Linked DNA regions of Homo sapiens: region 1 is linked to region 2. Evidence: fine-mapped expression QTL. A gene starts in region 2. The other region holds a variant in brackets. All regions are shown on one strand. Distances are from middle to middle.

What was found.
Region 1: its variant is fine-mapped to the expression of TPSG1 in sun-exposed skin (GTEx, PIP 0.91).

Annotation. Positions count from the first base shown.
Region 1 is chr16:1,196,826-1,202,187 of GRCh38, reverse strand. It overlaps CACNA1H (calcium voltage-gated channel subunit alpha1 H), which reads right to left. Exons shown (of 35, transcript NM_021098.3): 6 at 3,414-3,573; 7 at 1,617-1,932; 8 at 1,380-1,472; 9 at 1-525. It overlaps LOC124903623 (a long non-coding RNA gene), which reads left to right and starts at 477. Exons shown (of 3, transcript XR_007064938.1): 1 at 477-544; 2 at 799-856; 3 at 967-1,382. RefSeq lists enhancers at 3,052-3,609, 3,610-4,169. The variant G/A (reference allele first, on the strand shown) is at 2,559.
Region 2 is chr16:1,223,016-1,228,377 of GRCh38, reverse strand. TPSG1 (tryptase gamma 1) reads left to right here and starts at 3,110. Exons shown (of 6, transcript NM_012467.4): 1 at 3,110-3,171; 2 at 3,750-3,776; 3 at 4,784-4,955. The coding sequence starts at 3,126. It overlaps LOC124903621, which reads right to left and starts at 3,127. Exons shown (of 2, transcript XM_047434997.1): 1 at 2,817-3,127; 2 at 1,138-1,924. The coding sequence starts at 3,127. The coding sequence ends at 1,138. TPSB2 (tryptase beta 2) reads left to right here. Exons shown (of 6, transcript NM_024164.6): 6 at 1-42. RefSeq lists a silencer at 4,072-4,258.

The DNA of each region.
Region 1 (5,362 bases), 26 kb after region 2:
GTCGGCATGGTAGATGCTGTGCACAGACTCTGCGTCGGGGGGTCCGCGGCCTGGGGAAGGTGGCGAGGGGGGCGCGCCAGCTCGGACCAGCCTGGTGTCGCAGGCGCCTGGCTCGGGGCCGGGCCTGCGGGGGCTGCCATGGCTGAAATGGTAGTGGTGGTGGTGGTGGTGATGGTGGTGGTAGACCAGGTGGTGCACCGAGGCTGTGTGCCTGCCTGCCCGGCGCTGGCGGTGCCCGGGACCCTGGCCTTGCACAGCACTGGGGTCCACCTTCTTGCGCCAGCGGCTCTGCCAGCGGGCGTAGAGGCGCAAGCTGCGCCGCTTGACCTTGCGGAATATGTGGCCCACGTACTTCAGCAGCTCTTCGTAGCAGCTGCCAGGCTCGGAGAAGCTGGCCAGCGTGCTGTCGTTGGACAGGTGGCGTGCCCGCTGCTCCCGCATCAGCTGACTCTCCCGCTGCTTCGTCTCCGAGAACTGCGTGGCAATCACCACCAGGCACAGGTTGATCATGAAGAAGGAGCCCACCTGTGACGGGGGCGGGCGGGTAAGTGGCAGTGAGTGAGCGAGTCTCTGATTCGCCACTGAGCCCTACTGTGCGCTGCCTGTTCGAGTGGGGGCCGCGTCACAGGCACAGTGGGCGAGGTGCCCTGCTATGGGCAGGCTGCTGCGGTGTTCAGTGCTGAGCCCCCACGTCTGGAGCAGACGGCATACAGTAGCTGCTTTGTGCCTATCTGGACAAAAGACCTGGAACCCTCTTTCCTGCTTCTCCATGTGGCTCGGCCCCTCCTTTACCTGCAGATCTGGCCTTGAGATGACCCTCTCAACGGTGGCCACTCTCCCCTCCCCAGCACCCCAGGTGCGTTTCCTCCTTAGCATGGACCAGCGTGCAGCAAGTCTCTAATCGTTCGCTTCGCTTGCTCTCTCAGAACAAGCTGGGGACGTCTGTCTGCTTCTGTTACCTACTAGGTCCCCGCAGGGTGGCTCTAGGTATACCTAGGACCCCACAGACGTCTGCGGCCTGATTAACCCAACTCTGCCAGGACCCACTGGGGCCTATGAGAGGACCAGCTAAGGAGCACACCTGGGGCCACACACGCCCGTGGAAAGCGGTGCTGGGAGGCTATGCACTCCCCAGGGTGTTCCTGGCTCTTCAGCCCTGAGCCAGCACCCACAGGCCTGGACCCTGTCTAGGTGATGCCATGGCCTCTTGGGGTCCCCAGCCACACCTCCCCACCCCCGCAAGCTCTGCCTCCCTCCCCTGTGTGCTCCCTTCAGCTGGAAGACAGACAGGAGCCCCTATGACCACCCAGGTACCCCACCCCACCCCCAGCCAGCTAACACCAGGGCCCATCATGGCGAACACTGCCGCCCACACTCACGATGATGAGCAGGATGAAATAGATGAAGTTGTAGAATGAGTGGGCGTCCATGACGTAGTACATGATGTCCACCCAGCCTTCCAGCGTGATCACCTGGGGGGGCAGTGGCTTGACTTGGGCCCGCACGACCCCTCCTCCTCCTCCCCGTGCCCCTGGGGTCTGGGCTGGGGGGGGCGAGTCCTGCACCCGCTCCCCTGCCGTGCCCCAGGGTCCCCGTCCCACCATCTTGCCGCCCACCTGGAAGATGGCAATCCAGGCGTAGCCGATGTTGTCGAAGTTGATGGCACCGTTGTGGGGGTTGGAGTCACCCGAGCGGCACACGTTGTAGTACTGGTTCCAGTTGATGCAGGCGTTGCGTGCAGCGCCCACCCCCTCGGCCTGCGGCTGCGTGTAGGCCTCCCAGCCCAGGGTGCAGGGCATGCGCAGCTCGCGGCGGCCGGGGATGTGCGAGCACTTCTGCATGCCGTTGTCTCGGCGTGAGGAGCAGATGAACGGGTTCTCCTCGCCCTCCTCCGTCTGGTAGTACGGCCGCAGGAAGGTCAGGTTGTTGTTCCTGGGGATGGGCACAGCCAGGGCCAAAAGGTACAATCAGGGTCAGGGACGGTCAGAGTCGGGGGCACGATTGTGATCAGGGACGTGATCAAGGTCAGGGACGTGATCAGGGTCAGGGCCAGTGGACTAATCATGGTTAGGGAGGCACGGTTAGGGTCAGGGGGCATGATAGGACTGAGGGTCAAGACCCGGATCAGGGGACACAGCCAGGACCAGGGTCAAGAACACAGTGGTGCTGCAGAAACCACACTCTCCTCAGCCCAAGTCCACAGAGACAAACACACAAAGAACAGGGATGGACAGAGAAATCAACAAAGAACAGCACAGACAAACAGGGAGGGAGACCCAAGAGCCAGAAACCCAGGCTCAGACCTCAGCAACTCCTGGAAGCGGATGAGGGGCAAAGGGCAAGGGACGAGGGGAGGGAAGCCTGGGGTGAGGGAAAGGAGGCAGCCCTGGGGTGAGGGCTGAGAGGATCCAGGGGTGAGGGCTGAGGGCAGGGAACCCCGGGGTGTGGGCTCAGGGGACCCTGGGGTGAAGGCTGAGGGGAGACTCGGGGGTGAGAATTGAGGGGAGAACCCGGGGTGAGGGTTGAGGGGACCCCGGGGTGAGGGCTGAGGAGAGACT[G/A]CAGAGCAAGGGCCGAGGGGAGACCCTGGGGTAAGGTGTGACGGACTCTGGGGTGTGGGGAGGGGATGAAGTGTTGGGACTAACCTGTCTTGGGGGCTGAGAGGTGGCAGCACTGGGGGTGGGACATATGTGCAATGACCGCACGGTGGGTGGAGCCATGATGGGGGTGGGGCATATATGCAGCGACCGCACGGTGGGCGGAGCCATGATGGGGGTGGGGCATATGTGCAGCGACCGCACCGTGGGCGGAGCCATGATGGGGGTGGGGCATATGTGCAGCGACCGCACGGTGGGCGGAGCCATGATGGGGGTGGGGCATATGTGCAGCGACTGCGCGGTGGGCGGAGCCATGGTGGGGGGTGGGGCATATGTGCAGCGACTGCACGGTGGGCGGAGCCATGATGGGGGTGGGGCATATGTGCAGCGACCGCACGGTGGGTGGAGCCATGATGGGGGTGGGGCATATGTGCAGCGACCGCACGGTGGGCGGAGCCATGATGGGGGTGGGGCATATGTGCAGCGACTGCGTGGTGGGCAGAGCCATGGTGGGGGGTGGGGCATATGTGCAGCGACTGCGCGGTGGGCGGAGCCATGGTGGGGGGTGGGGCATATGTGCAGCGACTGCACCGTGGGCGGAGCCATGTGGGGCGGTGACTGCCAGCTGGGCGGAGCCATGATGGGGGGTGGGGGCGGGAGACAGCATGGTGGACGGAGCCATGACGGGGACAGCAGTGGCGGGGCGGGTGACTGCACGGTGGGCAGAGCCACGTGGGGCGGTGGAGCCACATGGTGCGTTATCTGCATGGTGGGCAGGGCCATCTGGGCAGGGGCCTCACGGGGGTGGGGCCTGGGCACCTGACAAAGGCACTGTCCAGGAAGCAGCGGTTCCGCAGGAGGCCAGCCCAGAGCTGGACGCCAACGATGCCGAAAATGAAGAAGACGAAGAAGCACAGCAGAAGGACGTTCCCGAGCATGGGCAGCGTATCCAGCAGCAGAGTGACCAGGATCCGCATGCCTGTGGGCAGCAGGGCCAGGATTGGCACTGCTAAGCCCTGCAGGAGTGTCCTCGGGGCTGCAGCCCCTCCCGGGACCCCCGAGCCCCGTCCACTGTTCACAGTGGGTGTCCACGCCCACTGCACACTGACTCGGGCCACCCCCTGGTGATTTTCCCGCACCCCTAGTGTGATCGGGACTCCCCTCCTACCACCACCGGCCTCCAGGGACACTGACACCCTGGGGTCTGACGTGCATCCAGCGGGGCGCCAGGTCTCCACCTCCAACCATCCCAGGGCAGCAGGTCTGCTGCTTTTGGAGGGCTGGGGTGTGGAGGGGCAGGAGTGGAGGCAGGGGACTGGCCGAGGCAGGGAACTGGCTGCGGCAGGTCTGACCACGTGGCATCTCGGGCTCGGGATGACCAGGCGGAGCCCAGTGGCCCTCGAGGCTTGTCTGGCGACACCCTGAAGTTGCCACCAAGGCAGCAGGAGCCTTGGGAGCCCCAGAACCTCAGGTGGTGGGCTGCCTCCTGGGGGTCTCTGCAGCAGGTCTGGGATCCTGAAAACTTTGTCTGATTCCCAGTGAGAATCCTGCCAGAACAGAGCCCCATCTCAGAGAGAGGCTGCTGGAGGCGGTGGGGAGGACCGGCAGCGGCTTTTCAGGAGGTAGCACTGAAGCCATCGGTCCTGGGTGCTATGGGCTACGTGAACTCCAGATTAATCCAGCAAGTGGGTCAGCCAAGCCCCACGCGCCCCTCGCTCCATCCTGGGCCTGCTCCCCCAAGACGTCCTTTCCCTCAAATTTAATCAAGGGCCAGGCTAAGGCAGCAGGTAAAGCCCTGGGCCAGGAACCTGGGGACGCTGAGTTCTCACCCAGCACCCAGGGGTATCAATGGCAAAACGGGCCCCTCAGGTCACAAGGGTGAGTCAGAGCCAGGAGGAGCACTGAAGTGTCAAAAGAGCCGACCGGAGCAGACAATCAGTGAGCACTGCCCTGGCCAGACCGCAACCGCCTCAAAGATCACAGATGACCCAGAGGTCAGAGTGGACCCCTAGCCAACAGAACAGGATGCAGCCCTGAGCGTGTCCTCATTATGAGAAGCGTATTATCCAGTCTGGAAGAGTTCCCTAGTTCTCTCCTAGAGACAGGAGCAGATCCCCAGGAGGCCAGGCTGCTGGCGACAATTAGGGCCACTCTGGCAATTTAACCTGAAAAGTAAACATCCATGGAAGGAAGGGGCTGTGTGTGCTGGGTTGCTTCACGCTTCAACAGGTGGGGCCAGGCCGGCGTGCAGACTGAACGTACAGTGGGTGCCGGGCAAAGGGCCAAGAGCCACACACGCGTCCCCTCACCGCACGCTCAGCCACCCTTGGGGTCATGGTTACTCCTGTACTGCACTATTCCAGGAGAAACTGAGGTTCAGGCTCAGCTAGTTGCTCAGAGTCACACAGTATTCAAGCCCTATCTGAGCCACACAGTAGAGCCAAGGCAGGCAGGTGGAAGGCAGGCTCAGGGACCAGCGGCACGAGGATGACCCACCTGCCCTTCGGGAAGCCAGAGGCCCCATGGGAAGGAGTGCCTAGCCTTGGGGGTCTGTGACTTTGGGGGGTTGCTGCAGGTCAAGCCCTGAGTGCCAAGGCCACCAGGACCCAGGTCAGGCAGCCAGAAAGGCTGTGTTACACCCGCACGTGCACACACGGGGCCACATCTACACGCAGTATGCACTCGCGCCTGGTACGGCCTCGTGGGGGCCGCGCCGACCCCCAGGAACCAGAGCAGTTGAATGTAGCCCTGAGTGCTTAAAGAACGAT
Region 2 (5,362 bases):
ATCCTCCTGAGTGCTGGACCTCATTAAAGTGCATGGAAATCACTGGTGTGCATCGCTGTGTTTCTGGTTGTGGATGTCACTGGGAGAGAAGGGGTCCAGGTGTGCTGAGGACACCTGCCACAGTGTGAGGTCCTAGCCCTCAAGGCACAGCCAGTCACCGTGGGACGGGGCCTCCTGGGCAGCCCTGGTCCCCGAGGCTGGCTTCTCCCCACACGATGCATCCAGCATTCGGGTCACACAGAGCCACTCGGGCAACTCAGTTGATTATAAAGGACAGCCAGGTCCCTGCAACCGGGTCAAGACAGAGAATGGTCACCGGGAGCCCCAGGGCTGCCCATCACGAGCCCCTACCCCACGCTTCCCACGAGCTCTTCTCCCGGCCCCTCCGTCCACTGCTTGTGCTTTGCCTAGTTGTTTGCTTTGAGACGGGATCTCGCTGTGTCATCCAGGCTGAAGTGCAGTGGTGTGATCAGGGCTCACTGCAGCCTTAACTCCTGGGCTCAAGCGATCCTCCCATCTTGGCCTCCCATATAGCTGGGCCACAGGAGTGAGCCACCACGCCCAGTTAATTTTTGTATTTTCAGTAGAGATGGGGTTTCGCCATGTTGGCCAGTCTGGTCTCGAACTCCTGACCTCAAGTGATCCGCCCGCCTCGGCCTCCCAAAGTGCTGGGATGACAGGCGTGAGCCACCGCACCCGGCCTGAGTTTGACATTTTCAAATTCATTTTGAGGTCTTTCTCTACATCAATAGGTGAGCCCTCTGCGTCTGGCGAGTGTTGCATTTTATCCCGGGCTCTTGTTTGCATTTTATATTTGAACATGATTACACTCAGGAATGAAATGCGGGGCTGTTCTGGTTGAAAACAACTCTCTAAAGAAACATTCACTCTTTCCTTCCAACTGTTAGATGCAGAGATGTGCATTTAGTCTCCCGAATCTCTGCAAATGACCTCTGTCCTCACAAGGGGTGGACTCAACTCCCAGTGCCCTCTCCAGCCCCACGTGACCTCTGCCTCTGCAGCCCCTGAAGGCCCATCCCTCGGCTCCTGTTCTGCAGGCCCAGCGTCTTGTTAATGAAGATGGACCTGGAACTCGGGCCCTTCTTCCTCCCTCTGGCCCATCCCACCTTCTAGGGATCACAGAGACAGCACGGGGTGACCCCCAGGGAACACTGAGCCCCTAGAAGCACTTCCACACGCCCACTGGAGGTTTTGCGGGGTGGGAGTCGGAGGGATGAGACCCCGAAGGGAAGCAAGACGGCCCCTCAGGACAGGGCTGCCGGTGTAAGGAAAGGTGGACAGCAGGGGCCGGTCACTGGGTGGAGGGGGAGGGCGGGCTCCAGCCCCAGAGCTTCCCAAATTAGATCTAAGATCCCTGGGAAGCTCAGTGAAGCTCAGCCCAGTGACACTGGCAGATGTGAGCGTCAGCTTCAGCAGGAAGGGTCTCTCAGGACGTGGCAGGCAGGCTGCTGGCCAGGGCTGCAGCCACCTGCGTTTTGACTGGGACGGGGGCACCTGCTCCAAGGTCACCCACGTGGCTGCCGGCAGGAGGCCCTGGTTCCCCGTCACAGGGGGGTGTGAGGCGGAGGGCGAGTGGGGGGGACAGGGTTCCCACCGAGGGGACGGCACCCAGGTGGCCAGGCCACCGCAGACAGAAGCAATCCCAGGTCTCCCAGGGTCCTGGACAACAGGAGACCCCACCAAGCTGGGGGCAATCACCAGGGCCAGGCCCCCCTCCCGGTTCCTCAGTTGGCTCTCCTGTCCAATGGTGGGGGTGAACGGCACCATGTCACAGGACTGCTGGGGCTCAGGGGATGGTGCCTGAAGCTTCTTCCTCCCCAGCAGGCCTGCAATCTGGGTCGTGTGGAGCACTCTGCGGGGAGTGGCGTGCTGGGGCACAGGCAGAAAGACGGGGTCCCCAGTGCTGCAGGTGAATTGAGTTGGGACAGGTGAGGGCCCTGAAGTCCCCACCTGTGGGGACCTGGGGACAGCCCTAGAGGTCAGGACTAGAGGACCTGGTTCCATGAAGACCCTGCCCCTCAGGCTCCCTCCCCACTGGGTGACATCGCCCTGTTAGGGGCACCCTGGGCCGGGGACTCGTGGCTCAGACCCCGCTCCCTTGTGTGGGGTGGGACTGTCCTGCCTCCCCTGAGGCGCCCCCTCCAGGTGTGCGGCTGCCGTGAGGGAGGAGGGTGCCCGGCCGTGGGTGCACTGCTGGCCCCGCATGCTGGTGTTGTCCTTATTGGTCACCAGGAAAAACACTGAACCTCCAGTTCTGAGCCTTGGCTACCCCACGTGCTGGCGTGCAGGCGGCCACGTCTGTGCCTGGGAGGCCACATCCTGGTGGGTGGTCAGGCAACTCCCCCCAACCCGTGGCTGAGTTTCCCCACATCAAAGAGGGGATCCCTGACCTAGAAGGTCTCAGCTGGACCCTCCAGCCTGGCCTGTGATTTGGATCTGGGGAGGGCGGCAGGAAAGTCCCGGGCGCTGCCCAGGGCCCCTAATCAGCTGAGTCATCAGGCTGGGGCAGCCAGGACGGTTAGGAAGGGCCAACCCAGGCTGGGCCGTGAAGTGGTGCCCATCTGATCTGCCGCACGAGCACAGGACCTGCTGCCGGACGTGGGGACAGGGACTTCTCAAAGAGTGGTTGTCACGAGGGCCTGAGCTGTCTCCAAAGGGCTGCTGGGCCTTGAGTTGGGACCCTCCTGAAGAACCCCCAGGACTGGGCTCCCAGAGGATGAAGGAGAGGGGGTGGCGTGCCCCGAGGGAACCAGGGAGTAATTTTTGGAGGGGGCGGCACTCAGAGGAACACTCACCCCTCCCTCAGCCCTGGCCCCGGAGCAGAGACAAGGTGAGAAGTACTTTTGCCTTCTGTCCTTCCCCGCTTTCCCTTGACGGAGCCGGCCACTTGGTGCCAGGGCTGTGGCGTCCACACAGGGATAAATGGAGGTGACGACCCTTCTCTGAGGTGCAGAAGGAACAGGTGGGGCCGTCTGTGGAGCTCCGGCCTCCTCCTCCGTCCTCCCGCCCTGCCTGACAGCAGGTGTGTGGCCACCCCTATCCCCCACGCCCAGCAGGTCCAAGGGTCAGGCTGGCCCTCCTTCTCCCTACAGTGGGCAGACACCATGGCCCTTGGGGCCTGTGGCCTCCTGCTGCTCCTGGCTGTGCCCGGTGGGTGACCTGGCCTGGGTGTGGGGATGGGGGGGCATCTGCTTCCTGCCTGGACCCCTGATGGGGGTGAAACTGGGGGCTGGTCTGAGACGGAGAAACATGCTGAGTCCCCACCCTGTGGGGCCCCGTGTCTCCTCTGAAGAGACTGCACCCCTGGCTGGAGGCCCAGCTGTCCGTGCTGGGGAGAGGCAGGAGGGATGTGCGGGTGGGAGTTGGGGGTGCAGGAGTTGGCAGGGCGGGTGGTAGTTGGGGGTGCGGGTGGGAGTTGGGGGTGCCAGGAGTCCCAGGCCCTAGAACACTGGTGATTTCTTTCCTGAGCAGGACCTGGAGGGCGGGGAGGAGGCCCAGGCCTGAGGCCAAGCTCCCGGCCTCCAGCTGCCGTTTATGGCCTGTGGCTTGTCCCACCCAGCCCTGGGCCAGTGAGACAGCAGTTGACCCAGCCTCACCAGGCCGGGCCCCTCTGCTCAGGACCAGGCCCCACCCCAGTGCCGCCCTGAGGCCTGGCAGGGGCCTCTGGAGCCCGCACACCCCTCTCCTTGGCAGCCCCCTCCATCCTGGGCCCTTCGTCTTTCCCACAGGTGTGTCCCTCAGGACTTTGCAGCCAGGTACGTCTCTGACAGGTGTGGGGTGTGGGGGAGGGTGCAGGCAAGGCCTGGCAGGAGGGCCTCGGTGACCCTCTCCTTCCCTGGGGTCCCAATGGGGGCCCGGGGAGGTCATAGTTTGTCGCCGTGGTTTCTGCTCGCATCTCTCGGTTGAGTGGGGCTGGTCGGGGTGTGCTGCAGGGCTGTCTCCCCCACCACCACTGTAGTCAGTCTGTACCTTGGGAGATGCTCTGAGGCCATGAAACAACCTGGCCCTCCTCGAACTTTCTCCCCACAGCGTCCCCACCGTGGCCCTGGAACCAGCTGGGGGCTTTGCCGTGTGGGAGAGCCGGTGCCCCACCCCACACCCGCTGCCTATCTATAAACATCTCTGTCTGTCTACATCCCAGCTTCCCTTCCATTCAGCCCAGTGGCCACACTCCATCACCAGCACAATTATCCAGCTCAGGCAGACCCAGGTGTGGCCAGTGGGTCTCCAGCTGACTTCCTCTTAATTTCTTCTTAACTTACTGAGGTGAAGTTTACAGAAGATAAAGTTACATTATCAAGCGTCCAATTCAGAGGCCCCGAGCACCTTGGACAGTGCTGTCTGCCCCCCGCCCCCCGAATTTTATCCAGCTTCGAATATCTCCACCACCCCTGAAGGAAAACCGGGGCCCACTAGGCAGCCACCCCCAGCACCCCGGGCCTTCTCGGGGGCTCCACCGTTCTGAGCCCCTTTCTAGCCGCCTAGGGGCCCTCTGCAGCCTTTCCACCGCCTCCGGGAGCCCTGGTTAGTTTGTGGAGCATGGTGCTTAGAAAGGACGACCTGAGCCCCAGGCGCGCTCACTGCTCCTGAGACGTCATTTCTGCTGCACCCACGATGCTTCTGGGGAGAGTCTGGCAGACGAGAGAGCTGAAGAGCAAAGTCCCCAAGAAGGCAGGGAGGTGTGGTCAGGGAAGGCTTCATGGAGGAAGTGCAGTGGGTTTCTTGGGATCCCCACCAGGCACCCCTTCCTCCTTCGACTTAGGGTGTGGCCGGCCGCAGGTTTCGGATGCAGGCGGCCGGATCGTGGGGGGTCACGCTGCCCCGGCCGGCGCATGGCCATGGCAGGCCAGCCTCCGCCTGCGGAGGGTGCACGTGTGCGGCGGGTCACTGCTCAGCCCCCAGTGGGTGCTCACAGCTGCCCACTGCTTCTCCGGGTGAGTGTCCGGGTGGGCAGGGGCAGTCTCAATGTCCAGGCCCCAGTGGGGCATGCGCCAGCGCAGAGGCCTCCACTTGGTCTTGACTCACTCCGAGGCTTGGGAACTCTGAGCCTACTTCCTTCCAATGGAAAGGGAGGAGCTGGTTGCCCACCTTCTGTGAGGTTCTGCAGCTCTTTGCTCACCTCTAGGGATGGACAGCTCCCTCCCTCCTTCCCTCCCCTCGGTCTCTTCACGTGGAGCTGAGCTTGCAATCTGCCTCCTGACCAGCCCCTGCTGGTGTCGGGCATGCTGCTGGCTTTTCCAGGGGCTGGCAGGAACCCCAAGGTGCTGCCGTGGTCCTTGGGCCCTGCAGGGTGAGGCCACTGCCCAGGCTTTCTGCGTCCCAAGCCTAGGAGGGAAGAGCT